Linked DNA regions of Homo sapiens: region 1 is linked to region 2. The links come from fine-mapping of genetic effects on gene expression. A gene starts in region 2. The other region holds a variant in brackets. All regions are shown on one strand. Distances are between the middles of the regions. Region 1 overlaps LOC124904699 (a long non-coding RNA gene). Region 2 holds the start of GRAMD1A (GRAM domain containing 1A).

The links. PIP is the estimated chance that this variant, and not a neighbour inherited with it, causes the effect. A credible set is the group of variants that fine-mapping cannot tell apart.
Region 1: its variant is the best candidate, but not a certain one, in a credible set for the expression of GRAMD1A in whole blood (INTERVAL, PIP 0.51).

What each region holds. Positions count from the first base shown.
Region 1 is chr19:34,965,586-34,970,097 of GRCh38, reverse strand. LOC124904699 (a long non-coding RNA gene) reads right to left here. Exons shown (of 2, transcript XR_007067236.1): 2 at 2,178-2,407. Among named protein-coding and RNA genes, the nearest start is that of ZNF792, 3.6 kb to the right of the region's middle. The variant G/C (reference allele first, on the strand shown) is at 2,256.
Region 2 is chr19:34,998,070-35,002,290 of GRCh38, reverse strand. It overlaps GRAMD1A (GRAM domain containing 1A), which reads right to left and starts at 1,968. Exons shown (of 20, transcript NM_020895.5): 1 at 1,805-1,968. The coding sequence starts at 1,812. RefSeq lists silencers at 1,354-1,483, 1,754-2,133 and an enhancer at 3,908-4,221.

The sequences.
Region 1 (4,512 bases), 32 kb after region 2:
CTGGGTTAGGGTCTCCCTGACTGAGCTGGTCTCGGCACTTTGTATCTTCTCTCCCAGAGCCTGTGTCCAATTCCGTCTGAAGCAGGGAAAGCCTCAGCCACACTGTCCACCTGATATAATTTGGATATTTGTCCCCTCCAAATCTCAGGTTGCAAACTGATCCCCAGTGTCGGAGGTGGGGCCTAGTGGGAGGTGTTTTGCTCACGGGAGCGGATCCCTCATGAATGTGTTGGTGCTGACCCCACAGTAATAATAGTTCTCCCTTGCTTCCTGCCATGTGATCTCCACACACCAGGTCCCCTTCACCTGCCATCATGAGTGGAAGCTTCCTGAGGCCTCATCAGAGGCTGATGCTGATGTCATGTTTCCTGTACAGCCTGTAGAACCTTGAGCCAAATGAACCTCTTTTCTTTTCCAGATAAAAATAAATTAGTGGCTGGGTGCAGTGGCTCACTCCTGTAATGCCAGCACTTTGGGAGGCTGAGGCAGGCAGATCACTTGAGGTCAGGAGTTAGAGACCAGCCTGGTCAACATGGTGAAACCTGTCTCTACTAAAAATACAAAAAATAGCCAGGTATAGTGGCGCACATCTGTAGTCCCAGCTACTTGGGAGGCTGAGGCAGTAGAATTGCTTGAATCTGGGAGATGGAGATTGCGGTGAGCCAAGACTGCACCACTGCACTCCAGCTTGGTAACAAAGCCAGACCCTGTCTCAAAAATAAATAAATAAATAAGCTGGGTGTGGTGGCACATTCCTGTGGTCCCACCTACTCAGGGGGCTGAGGCGGGAGGATCACTTGAGCCTGGGAAGTCAAAATGGCAATGAGCTATGATCATGCCACTGCACTCCAGAGTGGGCTTTAGAGCAAGACCCTGTCCCAAAGAAATAAATCAATAAAAATAAAAATAAAATTACCATATGACCCAGGAATCCCACTACTGAGTATACATCACAAGGAATTGAAATTGGTATGTCAAAAAGATATCTGCACTGCCATATTCATTGCAGCAATGTTCACAATAGTCAAGCGACTGAAGTGCTCATCAACAGATAAACGGATTTGTACAATGTGGTAGAGATACACAACTGAATACTATTTGGTCATAAAAGAGAAGAAAATCCTGTCAATTGGGACAACAAGGTTGAACCGGAGGACATTATATTAAGTGAAATAAGTCAGGCACAGAGGACAAATACTACATAATCCCACTCATATATGGAACCTAAAAAAGTTGTCTCATAGAAATAGAGTGAAATGTTGGTTACCAGAGGCTGAGGTTGCCAGGTGGTGGGAGTGGGGCAATGTTGGTCAAAGGATATAAAATTTCAGGTAGCTAGGAGGAATAAGTTCAAGAGATCTATTGTACAACCTGGTGACTGTAGTTACGGTGTATTCTTGACAAATGCTTAAAGAGTAGATTTTAAGTCTTCTCAACACAAAAAAGATAACTAAGGCTGGTGCCATGGCTCACACCAGTAATCGCAGCACTTTGGGAGACCAAGGCAAGGAGGAGTGCTTGAGCCCAGGAGTTTGAGACCAGCCTAGACAACATGGTGAAACTCCATCTCTGCAGAAGATACAAAAAACTAGCTGGGTGTTGTGGTGCACGTCTGTAGTCTCAACTTCTCGGGAGGCTGAAGTGGGAGGATGGCTTGAGCTCAAGAGGTCAAGGCTGCTGTGAGCCACGATAGTGCCACCGTACTCCAGCCTGGGTGAGAGAATGAGACCCTGTCTCAAAACAAAACAATGTGAAGTGATGCATATGTTAATGAGCTTGATTTAGTCATTCTGAAGCAGGATATTTCCCTGACCCCTTCTTGGATGGGAACTAGAGTACATGGGCGCTGTCAGGGACGAACTCCACTCGCTTGTTGTTCCACCCCTCATGGGGAGGGGAGCACAGGTGAGTGGGTGCAGGAGACAGGGTGAGGGCTTTTGGGTGCTGGCAAGAGCAAATTCCATACTAGCCCCACGGCAGTGTCTAGGGGAAGGTGCTGTGACCCCTGAAGCCCCTGACGAAGTGTTACAGTGCCCTTTTAGCTTTGCCATCCATGCATAGCTTAAGTGTTAACAGCTCAGTGGAGGGTCAGTGCGACAGCCTTTTGTACCCACACTCATGGCACCCAAGTTTTTGTCTGGCATCCAGGAGGAATGAGGTCACACAAACAAATTGAAGATGGTAAATGCAGGGGATTTTATTGCCGGTGAAAGTGGCTCTCAGCAGGAAGAGGAGCTGAAAAGGGGATGGAGCAG[G/C]AAGGTAATCGTCCCCTGAAGTTTGGCCATCCCTGGCCATCCTCTCCAAAGCTACGCTGTCAAGCTGTCCCTTTGAAGTCAGCCTGCTTCTCTCCAACATCCAACCATAGTCTCCAATGTCCAGCTGCTTTTCTTCTCTCTGCCGGCTGAGCCTGGGGTTTTTATGGGCATAGGATGGGGGGCAGGGTGAGCCACGGGTGGTTTTGGAAAAGGCAACATTTGAGTGGGAAAACAGGGATGTAAGTTCTCACTTTGGGCCGTGGTATCAAGATTTTCAGCTTGATGGACCTGGCCTCTTCTGCCCAGAATTTCCCTACCTCCTGTCCCTATCAATTCCACAATGTATCTATATTTCAAAACATCATGTTGCATACAATAATTATATATTATTTTATAAATTTAGAAAAACAAAAAAATGCAGCTATAAGAAAATAATAAAATAAAATCAAGTAGGCAAATGTTACTATGGTGTGCTTTCATGTAAAAATCATAACTATTCCCTCTGAGGCGGTACTTGCTGAGTTAGAGTCATTGTATATTTTGACAAACATCCAAAAGACTGCACAGAGGTGTCTCTTCCCTGCCGCCCCACAGCAGTGTTTGTAAGATTCTTGTGATGATGGTGTTGGTAATGACAATAGCTTTTATGCACCCAGCAGGAATTCTGTCCTGGGCCCTGTTATCTACCATTGTAACCACCCAATGGGTTCTTTTTGCCTGCTACAAAAAGACCACGGCATTGCAGTAAACAAAGTCTTTAACTGACACAGGGCCAGCCATGCCATGGGAGAAACAGAGTTATTACTCAACTTGATCTCCCTGAAAATTCAGTGATCAGAGGTTTTCAGGGATAATTTGGTGGGTGGGGGGCCAGGTAGTGGGGAGTGCTGATTAGTTGGGTTAGAGATGAAATCACAGGGAGTCAAAGTTGACTAACTGCACTGAGTAAATTCCAGGGTGGGGACCACAGGACCAGATGACCCAGTTTATCAATCTGGGTGGCACTAGCTGATCCATCGAGTGCTGGGTCTGAAAAATATCTCGAGCACCAATCTTAGGTTTTACAATAGTGATGTTATCCCCAGTAGCAATTGGGAAGGTTTAAAATCTTGTGACCCCTGGCCCCTGGCTGCATGACTCCTAAACCATACTCTCTAATCTTGTGGCTTTTGTTAATCCTACAAAGGCAGTCTGGTCCCCAGACAAGAAGAGGGTTTGTTTCAGGAAAGGGCTGGGTTTTTTTGTTTGTTTTTGTTTTTGAGATGGAGTCTCGCTCTGTTGCCCGGGCTGGAGGCGATCTCAGCTCACTGCAAGCTCTACCTCCCGGGGTTCATGCCATTCTCCTGCCTCAGCCTCCTGAGTAGCTGGGACTACAGGTGCCCGCCACCACACCTGGCTAATTTTTTGTATTTTTAGTAGAGACAGGGTTTCACCATGTTAGCCAGAATGGTCTCGATCTCCTGAACTCGTGATCCGCCTGCCTCGGCCTGCCAAAGTGCTGGGATTACAGGGGTGAACCACCATGCCCGGCCTAGAGGGAAAGGGCTGTTATCTTTGCTTCAAAGTTAAACTGTAAACTGAGTTTCTCCCAAAGTTAGTTAGGCCTATGCTCAGGAACGAACAAGGACAGCTTGGAGGTTAGAAGCAAGATGGAGTTGGTTAGGTCAGATCTCTCACTGTCATAATTTTCTCAGTTATAATTTTTACAAAGGTGGTTTCACCATATGACATGTAGTATCGGGGGAACCCACCCCCGATAATTCAATGTGGGTTCTTTTCTATTTTCCCTAAGTGTCGGCTGGTCTGAGAAATAAAGGGAAAGAGTACAAAAGAGATAAATTTTAAAGCTGGGTGTCTGGGGGAGACATCACATGTCAGCAGGTTCCGTGATGCCCCCGAGCCATAAAACCAGCAAGTTTTTATTGGCAATTTTCAAAGGGGAGGGAGTGTACGAATAGGGTGTGGGTCACAGAGATCACATGCTTTAAGGGCAACAAAAGATCACAAGGCAGAAGGTCAGGGCGAGATCACAAGGTCAGGGCAAAACTAGAATCACTCATGAGCTTCCATGTCCTGCTGTGCACGCATTGTCATTTATAAACATCTTAACAGGGTTCAAGAGCAGAGAACTGGTCTGACTAGAGTTCGCCAGGCTGGAATTTCCTAATCCTAGCAAGCCTGGGGGCGCTGCAGGAGACTAGGGTGTGTTTCATCCCTATCTACATGTGCATAAGGCAGACACTCCCAGGGCAGCCAT
Region 2 (4,221 bases):
TGGATCTCGAGGACACAGTGGCCAGGTAGTGGAATAATGCGTGGCACATGCTATACTAACTGTAACAGGTGGACAACGTCAGTTATCATTATTGCCTCCAAAGTGCCCTGGGTACTCCCAGGGTCTTAGAAGGGAGGGTTCCAAGCCTACAGAGAGCCACAAGGGGTCTCACACTGTTCACACACACACAAAACCACAGAGGGTCTCAGCTGTACACAGAGAGGCCTAGGCACCACTCAATACTGTCACAAAGGAATACACAAGGGAATGTTCACACAAAGATGGAATCAAATTAAGTTACAGCCACACTCACAGAGCCCCAGACACACAACAATGTCACAAATGTAACTTACATTGGCACACAGAGCTAAATGAGAGTTTCAAGCCAGGCGCGATGGCTTAAGCCTGTAATCCCAGCACTTTGGGAGGCCGAGGTGGGTGGATCACCTGAGGTCAGGAGTTCGAGATCAGCCTGGCCAACATGGTGAAACCCCATCTCTACTAAAAATACAAAACTTAGCCAGGCGTGGTGGCACACGCCTGTAATCCCAGCTACTCAGGAGGCTGAGGCAGGAGAATTGCTTGAACCCAGCAGGAGGAGGTTGCAGTGGGCCGAGATCGTGCCACTGCACTCTAGCCTGGGCGACAGAGCCAGACTCTATTTCAAAAGAAAAAAAAAAAAAGAAGAGCGTTTCAGAGCTAAATTACAGGCATATGCAGGCACAGAGGGTCATGGTAGAACCCAGAGCCCCAGGCACACTTGTACACACACCACTAAGTCACAATGGGACGCACACTGGTAACTTACAGCAACGCTTGGAGCTACAGATAGAATTAATGGTAAAACACACACAGCCCAAGAAGGATCAGAGCTGCTACACACGGTAACTCCAGACACATGTACAAACACTCCAACGTCACACTCAGACACACAGGGGTAATTTATATTTGCACAGGGAGCTACAGATGGAATGAGACACAACACGCACACAACCAGCTGCTCACAGCCACAGATTTGGAGCCCCAGACACACACAGGTAACTTACAGTGACACACAGAGCCGCGGTCAGAATTAGTGGTTAAGTTACACGCAGGAACTCTATCAGAGGCCCAAAGCTGCTGCAGGCTAGCAGCCCCAGACACACGTACACACACTTGCAAGACAATTCACAGTCGGAAGCACATGCGCCCACCTGGACCGGAAGGGGAGTAAGAAGTCAATTCCGAGCACACAGGACCCCCCGCCCTCCATGACCTCAAGCACGCGGTCCTGGAGAGACGCAGGAAGCCCCCACCCCCGGCAGCCCCGAGACCCGCAACAGCCAAGGACGGTGGGAGGGGGCCCAGGCAGGAGGGGGCTGCCTACTCCCGGCGCGCCCAGGGCTCCGCGGCCTGTGGGCCTGGGCTGGTCCCGATCCTGTCTCCATCCCAGGCCGGAGCCCCAGTTCGGCCTCGCGCTCACCCCTGGCTTACCAGGCAGGGGGTTGCCAGGCCTGAGGGCCCTCCCCGCCAGATGAACCCGCGGGCCCCCAGCCAAACCCCGCAACCCAGTGCGTCGCGGGCCGGCAGTGGCGACCCAGACCCCGGGCCCTGCCCTGCGTCCGCGCCCCACTCCCCAGCTGCACCCCTCGCCCGGGGGCCCCCTGCCCCGCCCCCACCCCGATCGCCCCGGCCAGAGCCATGTGCAGAGGCCCCCGACCTCTGCAGCGGCCGCTCCGCCCCCTCCCCAAGCCCGCGGCGCCCCCTCCCTCCGGTGGCCTCCCCCGCGCGCCCGGTCCCTGAGCTCTAGTCGCCCGGTCCTTACTCGAACATGGATGCGGCGCGGTGGGCGCGCCCCGGGCGCAGGGCAGGGCAGGGCAGGGCAGGGCTGGGCTGCGCGGGGCTGGGCTGCGCTGGGCGTCCCCGCAGGGCACCGGCCTGGCCTTCCGCGGCCGCCGCCCCCACCCGACCCAACCGCCCGCACAAAAGGCCGGAGCCGCCGGAGGCCGCCGCGGCGTCAGCGACACCCCCTTCCTTCCCCCGCCCCGCCGCGTCACGGCGCCGCCCCCAGCCCGGGAGGGAAGGCGGGGAGGGGCCGCAGAGGCCTAGAAGGAGGGAGAAGCCGGGGAGAGAGGGACTGGACAGAGAAGGGAAAGCAGAGGGGCAGAGAGACAGAGAAGGAAACAAAGAGACTTTATTAAAACCAAACATCGTGGAGGCAGCTGCCTGCCCGCAGGTTGGGGAGCCCCCTCCCCTAGTACCTAGAAAAGGGTCCCTAGCAACTACTATGCCCCTGGCCAGAAGCTCCTGGACCTCCCAGGGAGGAACCTGAGAGCCGGGGCGAAGGTGGGGGAGGACTGGAGATGCTGGGAAACCGAGGTGTATGTATGGGGGAGGGGGCCTGAAGCTGGCGGGAAGGGGTGGGGCCGGTTGGCCGCCTCCTCCTTCCCTCTCCCAGTCTCTGAGCCCGGGTTCCTGGTCCCAGGAGGTCCGGTGCCTCCGTTTCTAGGGACTTCCCAGTTTTGGTCAGCCAGGCCAAGTACCAAGTCAGAATCCAGCCTCCCTGGCTCTTATCTGTGCTGAGACCTTGCGCTCATCACCCCAGTGCTGGGAGTCCCACTAACTCGGTGGTAAGGGCTTTTCCCGGGGACAGCGCAGGAACGGGCAAAATCAGTCCTTTTACGGAAGGAGAAGCCCGGCCTCTAAGATGGGAAGTGACTTGTTGGGGTCACCTGGTAGGTAGGCGGCAGAGTTGGATTCGATCCTGCTCTGACGCCATAACCTGCGTCCCCCCTCCCCCGCCCCGTCTGCAAGAGGTCAGAGTCAGGTGGTGTCCTGGACTCCTGGCCCAACCACACAGAAATGCGAGTCCCACCTCACAGCTCCGGGGCTGTGGCTCCCCAGCGCTCTCCAGGGTACGCTGTCCCCGCCTCTTTTGAAAAAACTCCCTTCCCAACCCTCTCCATCAACCCTTCCCCTCCTCCTGCAAAAGAAGCCCACCTGACTTCTCCATTTTGATGAATGGCAGGCCCAGAACTTCAGAGTCTTTTCTGACCCTCTCTTTTCCTTCACACCACATCCAATCCGTCACAAACTGTGGGCTCCACGTATAAAATCAATCGCTCCATTCTAAACTCTTCTTCCTCCGCTGCCCACGCCCTGGCCCAGCCTCCATCCTCTCCTGCCTGATCTCCCTGCTCCCATCCCTGCCCCTACTGTCTGTTCTCACCTGCAGCCAGAGAGAGCCTGGGACCACCTGAGTCAGTTAACTACCCTCCTGGCTCAGAGCCCTGCCCCAGCTGTACCTCACTCCAGGTAAAAGCAAAGTCCTCACCTTGGCACCCAAGGCCCCTGTCAGCTCTCTGACTTCAGCTCCTCATCTCCCCCTGGCTCACACCCCCCATCCAGCCTACCCGCTGTTCTTCTAACTCACCAGGCACCTTCCTGCCTCCTACCCCAAGACCTTTGCACTGGTTATTCCCTCTGCATGGACAGCACCCCCCCTATCGCCGTGCCCTACCTCTCATGCTAACCCCCACCTCTAAAACCCCCATCCACCATCTGACATTTGCTGCCTCCCACCGGCCAATGGAAGAGAGGCCCTCCTCCCACCACCTTCCTCTGTCCAACTGATCTCTTTAGATTTCTCTTTGGTCTGTTTCTTCTAGTGTAATGCTTTTAGTTTTTTAATTAAATAATATTTATTTCAGGTCAGGCGCGTTGGGTCACGCCTGTAATCCCAGCACTTTGGGAGGCCAAGGAGGGTGGATCACCTATCAGGAGTTCGAGACCAGCCTGGCCAACAGAGTGAAACCCCATCTCTATCAAAAATACAAAAAAATTAGCCAGGTGTAGTGGCTTGCACCTGTAATCCCAGCTACCCAGGAAGCTGAGGCAGGAGAATTGCTTGAACCCGGGAGGTGGAAGTTGCAGTGAGCCAGGATCGCACCACTGCGCTCCAGCCTGGACAACAGAGCAAGACTCCATCTCAAAAAAAAAAAAAAAAAAAAAAAGGAAGAAAATATAACAGTCCTCTATGTCCCCTGTACCTATATAGAATAGATGTGGACATTTTGCCATTTTGCTTCAGGTCCTTTTTTTAAAAGAAATAAATGATTACACTTACAACCAAAGGCCTGGCTCCCCATCCCTCCTTTCCCTTCCCGTGCCCCCCAAGGAGCCTTCTGCCTGCCATGCAGTTGGTGTGTTTCCTTCCTGCGCTTTTTTTTTTTTTTTTTTTTG